Regions from separate parts of the Homo sapiens genome. Here region 2 is linked to region 1. The links come from fine-mapping of genetic effects on plasma protein levels. A gene starts in region 1. The other region holds a variant in brackets. All regions are shown on one strand. Distances are between the middles of the regions. Region 1 holds the start of CES2 (carboxylesterase 2). Region 2 has its middle 15 kb from the start of RIPOR1.

Evidence for each region. PIP is the posterior inclusion probability: the model's chance that the variant is causal. Protein levels are from antibody-based Olink assays in UK Biobank. Linkage for the fine-mapping came from a reference panel and not from the study's own genotypes, which makes the PIPs less certain.
Region 2: its variant is fine-mapped to the plasma level of the CES2 protein (UK Biobank, PIP above 0.99).

The regions. Positions count from the first base shown.
Region 1 is chr16:66,933,725-66,936,624 of GRCh38, forward strand. It overlaps CES2 (carboxylesterase 2), which reads left to right and starts at 1,792. Exons shown (of 12, transcript NM_001365405.1): 1 at 1,792-1,987. The coding sequence starts at 1,912. It overlaps CIAO2B (cytosolic iron-sulfur assembly component 2B), which reads right to left and starts at 678. Exons shown (of 5, transcript NM_016062.4): 1 at 499-678; 2 at 263-342; 3 at 1-15. The coding sequence starts at 640. RefSeq lists enhancers at 284-333, 364-563, 1,402-2,014.
Region 2 is chr16:67,511,921-67,514,820 of GRCh38, forward strand. No RefSeq gene overlaps it. Among named protein-coding and RNA genes, the nearest start is that of RIPOR1, 15 kb to the right of the region's middle. RefSeq lists silencers at 2,412-2,599, 2,732-2,900. The variant G/T (reference allele first, on the strand shown) is at 1,350.

The sequences.
Region 1 (2,900 bases):
CTCGGGGTCGCTAACCTGGTTGTGGAGGAGAGATGTCAAGAGTCAACCACCCTCAGCCCAAGGTCCCTCTTCTTAGTTTGTTGTTTTGGGCAAATCATCCAACTTCTATGGGCCTCAGTTTCAACACCCATAAAATAGGCACAACAATCTCCCTCCCCAAAGATACCCTTCGGTGTTCGTGAGCATAGAGCACGCCAGCTCCTGCTGCACAGAAACCTTTCTGACTCTCTGGAACAACTCGCTCCCCTCGGAAGTGACTCACCTGAACCCGCACCTGCTCTACTACGTTCAACTCCTCTAGCGTCAGTGGATGCTCCGGGTCATTGATGGAGCGAATCAGATGTGGGAAGTGAAGGAAAAGGGACTCTGCGCCCTTGCCCACTTAGAACCCTCTGCCAGGAACGCCCTGCTGGGATGCGGCTCCACCAGCTGCTCGATATCACTGCTCCCCCCACCGCAAGCCCCCGGAACCCGCCCGCGCCCAGCAGCGGCGGATATCGAAGATCTCGCGTGCGTCGATGCTGTCGGGAACCTGCTCGTCCTCCTCGCCTGCCGTCACAGGCCGCTCCCCAGAGCGCTGGTAGATGAGGGGGTTGGCATTCTCCAGGAGGCCGCCGCCGACCCCGCCGCCGCCTACCATCGCGGAACCACCACCGCTGATCCTAGCAGGCGTGCGCTTCCGCTCCAACCCGCGCACTTCCGGAGAACGGGAAGGGGGCGTGGCGTGGCGACGGAGTCGCGCGAGGGACACGCCGCGTTGTGGGTTCTCGGCCTGAGGTGCGAGAGAAGCGGTGACCGCGGCCCTGGCTGCTCGGACCCGGGAACATGATGGTCGCTGGAGCAGAAGGCGCTGAGAAGGGACCACGGCGGCGCTGGGTCGTGCGAGCCAGTAGCGGGCTGAAACGTAGAGGCCAGAACCAGGTCTCAGGGGGCACTAAAGGCGGTCGGAGGTAATCCCCACACCGCTTCCTCCTGGAAGTCAGGCTGGCCGGGAGCTCCCGTATCCAGGACGGTTGGTCGCCTCTGGCCTGGCAGGGATCCTAGTGTCTCGGGACCTCCCGGTGACGCGCCTGCCTCCCCTGCTGCACCATAGGCCCGGGAGTACGGCGTCCCCACAGCTTGGACCGGCAGGGGCTCGTGAAATGTTTGTCAAGTGGATAAATGACCATGGCCGTGGTCTCCGCGGGAGGTGAGGAAACTGAAAGCCACCGAGGAAAAGGGGGGCGCTCCTTAAGAAGTGCCGCGGTCACGTGTACGTTTCAAAAGAATGGCGTGACTGAGTAGGGAGGGGACCGCGGAGACCCTCAGACCCTGGACTGTAAGGAGATGAGGGGCCGTGAAGGGGAACCCAGGAAACTGAGTCCTGAAAGCAAGGAGGAACTTCCAGAATGAAGGGCGCCGACACTCCTTCCTGCCTTTGCTCAAGCGGTTCCTTCACCCCGATCAAGTTCCTTCCCATTTCTCCATCTGGGGGATCCTGAACGTGCACATCCTCAGAGAAGCCCTCCTGGGGTCTCCAATTCTAGTTTATTGCCCCCTCCTATCGATCCCCCAGCGCGCTCATCGGGCCTGTGGACAAGGACAGGTTTGAAGAGAGGATTCCCTGGATCGCGGAAGGGCTGCAGGAATGGCACAGCCCCTTCCGAGGATGCCAAAGGAGCCCGGGCAAAGGAAAGTGGCCGTGCCCGGGCCTGCCTACCACTAGATCCCCACCCACCTATGACTGCTCAGTCCCGCTCTCCTACCACACCCACCTTTCCCGGCCCAAGCCAGCGCACCCCGCTGACTCCCTGCCCAGTCCAAACTCCAAGGCTGGGCAAGGCACTGATCCACTGCTGGACAGACCCGGGGCAGCCTCTGGGTGAACAGCAGCGTGTCCGCCGGCAGCGAACCGAGACCAGCGAGCCGACCATGCGGCTGCACAGACTTCGTGCGCGGCTGAGCGCGGTGGCCTGTGGGCTTCTGCTGCTTCTTGTCCGGGGCCAGGGTGAGGCTCCCTCGGAGGGGCGACAGGGACCGGGCTCAGATCTGCCAAATGCTGCGGAGGCAGAACCTGACAGTGCGGGAGGGCAGGCGCCTGGGAGGTAGGAGCTGGTGGAGATGACAGCGTGGAACTCGTGAGCCCCACGCAACGCCTCCCCGCCGCCCAAGGTGGGCTCCTAGAAGCACAGAAAGGGTCGGGCTGGGGGACACCACGGCAAGGAACCAGCGGAGTACAGGGGCCCCAGGAGCGCCGGGACATGCCAGGCCGGGTAGGCAGCCTGGGGTCGGAGTGGGTGAGGGATTGGGGTGTGGGGATTCAGTCCATTTCCCTCTTATGATTGTGGCTGTAGCGGGTGCTGCCGGCCGGTAATAACAGTAATAGCTTCTGGCAGCATCTGGCTCTCAGTGTGTGGCGTCCTTGGCCAGGGGGGATGCCCTGAGCCCTCCAAAGGGGCCTCAGACAAGGATAGTGGTCCTTGGGGAACAGAAGCCCCCAGGCGCCAAATCCTAAAGCAGATCTAAGAGGCCACAGTGGCTGGGTGCGATTGGCTCACTCCTTTAATCCCACCACTTTAGAAGGCCAAGGGAGAGTATCGCTTGTGCCCAGGAGTTGGAGGCCAGCCTGGACAACATAGTGAGACTCGGAGTGTACAAAAAATTGAAAGAAATTAGTGGGCTGTGGTGGTCTGTGACCTGTAGTCCCAGCTACTTGGGAGGCTGAGGTGGGAGATCACTTTAGTAGGGGAGGTTGAGGCTGCAGTGAGCCTTCATCCCACTACTGCACTCCAGCCTGGGTGAAAAAGCAAAAATCTGTCTCCAGAAACAAGAACCAAAGAGCTCGTGGTGTCCCTCATGCCATTTACCTCATCCTGGGCAAGGGCACAACTTGGCTTCCAGGGCAAAGGTGAAGGCTCTGT
Region 2 (2,900 bases), 580 kb after region 1:
ATTTTTAGCAGAGACAGGTTTTTGCCATGTTGGCCAGGCTGGTCTTGAACTCCTGGCCTCCAGCGATCCACCTGCCTTGGCCTCCCAAAGTGCTGGGACTACAGGCATGAGTAACTGTGCCTGGTCCTGGGGCAAAAATTTATACCCACATTGCAAGGTTTTTTTTTAAAAAACAATTGTAGTTATGCAGACTTTCTGAACTAATCTGGAGGGGGTCCACCTGCCCAGAGCTCTCCATCTCACTCTCAGGCGATGGGGGAGGCAAAGTTAGAACCCTGCTGTGAGGGCGACGGTGTACGCAGCCCTGGGGTAGTAAGCTCTCTGGTGAAGCCTCAGTGATGGGATAGGAAGGTGGCTTTTGTGAATGTATCTTTGAAGTCATTCTGTCATCATTTTGACAAGTAAAAAGAGGCAAGATGTTTTGCCAGAGGTGCAGGAACCTGAAGCTGGCCTGCTGTTGAACCTCTGTGCAGGAGGGAGTCAGGCAGATGACAGGAATGACAGGACAGGCTGGTGGCCAGCCGTGAACCCCAGGGAGGAGAAGGAAGGGAGATCAGGTGAGGCTGAGGCTCTCTATGTTGCCCAGGCTAGTCTCGAACTCCGGGGCTCAAGCAATCCTTCCACCTCAGCATCCCTAAATGCTGGGATTACAGGCATGAGTCCCCACACCCGGCCTATCACCTTTAAAATTATTTTATGTTATGTTATTATGTTGTTATGTTGCCCAGCCTGGGAAACATAGGAAGATCCCATCTCTACAGAATATTTAAAAATTAACCAGGAGTGGGCCAGGCGCGGTGGCTCACGCCTGTAATCCCAGCACTTTAGGAGGCTGAGGCGGGCGGATCACAAGGTCAGGAGATCGAGACCATCCTGGCTAACACGATGAAACCCCGTCTCTACTAAAAATACAAAAAATTAGCCGGGCGTGGTGGCGGGCGCCTGTAGTCCCAGCTACTTGGGAGGCTGAGGCAGGAGAATGGCGTGAACCCGGGAGGCAGAGCTTGCAGTGAGCCAAGATCACGCCACTGCACTCCAGCCTGGGCGATAGAGTGAAACTCCGTCTCAAAAAAAAAAAAAAAAAAAAAAATTAACCAGGAGTGGTGACATGCACCTGTTGGCCCAGCTACTCGGGAGGCTGAGGTGGGAGGATCCCTTGAGCCCAGGAGTTCAAGGCTGCAAGGAGCTATGGTCATGCCACTGCACTTCAGCCTGGGCAACAGAGTGAGATGCTGTCTCAAAAAAACAAACAAAAAAAGAAGTTTAAAAATAATTTAAAAAGAAAAGACTCGGCCAGGCGTGGTGGCTCACGCCTGTAATCCCAGCACTTTGGGAGGCCCAGGTGGGCG[G/T]ATCACGAGGTCAAGCGATTGAGACCATCCTGGCCAACATGGTGAAACCCCATCTCTACTAAAAATACAAAAATTATCCGGGTGTGTTGGAGCACGCCTTTAGTCCCAGCTACTTGGGAGGCTGAGACGGGAGAATCACCTGAACCCAGGAGGTGGAGGTTGCAGTGAGCCAAGATCGCCCTACTGCAGTCCAGCCTGGCGACAGAGCGAGACTCCATCTCAAAAAAAAAAAAAAAAGGCTGAGTATGGTAGCGCGGTGTCTCAAGCCTGTAATCCCAGCACTTAGGTAGGCTGAGGCGGGGAGATCATGAGGTCAGGAGTTCAAGACCAGCCCGACCAACATGGTGAAATACTGTCTCTACTAAAAATACAAAAATTAGCTGGGTATTGTGGCACACGCTTGTAATCTCAGCTACTCAGGAGGAGTAGCCTCATTTGAACCCAAGAGGCGGAGCTTGCAGTGAGCCGAGATTGTGCCACTGCACTCCAGCCTGGGTGACAGAGCAAGACTCCGGCTCAAAAAAAAAAAAAAGAGAGTGAAAAGACAAGACAATCCACAGGATGGGAAAAAATATTTGCAAATCAAACAACTCAGTGCAAAAGTGGGTAAAGAGCCAAGTGTGGTAGTACACACCTGTAGTCCTAGCTACTTGGGAGGCTGAGGTGGGAGGATTGCTTGAGCCCAGGAGTTTGAGACCAGCCTGGGCAATATAGCAAGACCCCATTTCTACAAAAAAAAACTGTGTAAAATAAATATTTATCCAAATAATATACTCAAATGGGCTGGGCACTGTGGCTCACACCTGTAATCCCAGCACTTTGCAGGGGCTGAAGCAGGTGGAGCTCTTGAGCCTCAGAATGGGAGATGAGCCTAGGCAACATAGCGAGACCATGTCTTACAAAAAAATACAAAAATTAGCCAGGTGTGGTGGTACATGCCTGTGATCCCAGCTACTTTGGAGGCTAAGATGGGAGGATTGCTTGAGTCCAAGAGGTTGAGGCTGCAGTGAGCCATGATCATGTCACTGCACTGCAGCCTGAGTGACAGAGCAAGACCCTGTCTCAAAAAAAAAAATCATTAAAATTAAAAAATAAAATTAGCCAGGTATGGTGGCACGAGCCTGTGGTCCTAGCTACTTGGAAGGCTGAGGCGGGAGGATCGCTTGAGCTCAGGAGTTGGAGGTTACAGTGAACTGTGATTGCACCATTGCACACCAGACCAAGACGCTGACTCAAAAAAAAAATTGTTTTTAATTGAAAGACAGTAAATGCACGCCCCCTTGTGGGTGCATGTTTACGCTTGCTCTCCTTTTGGGACTTCCTGGGAACTTCTCACTTGGTCTTCTCAGTTCACGGGGGTTATAGCCCTACAGCTCTGTTCTTGCTCCGATCTATTGATTAGTTCCTTTCTCAGGAAACCAACCATCAGGCCTCCCAGGTAGTATCAAGGAACTGAAACTTTACAGATCACTGCATCTGGACAATATGTTACCAGACCCCATACCCATCATAACTGCCTAATCATGCTGGGTGCAGTGGCTCACACCTGTA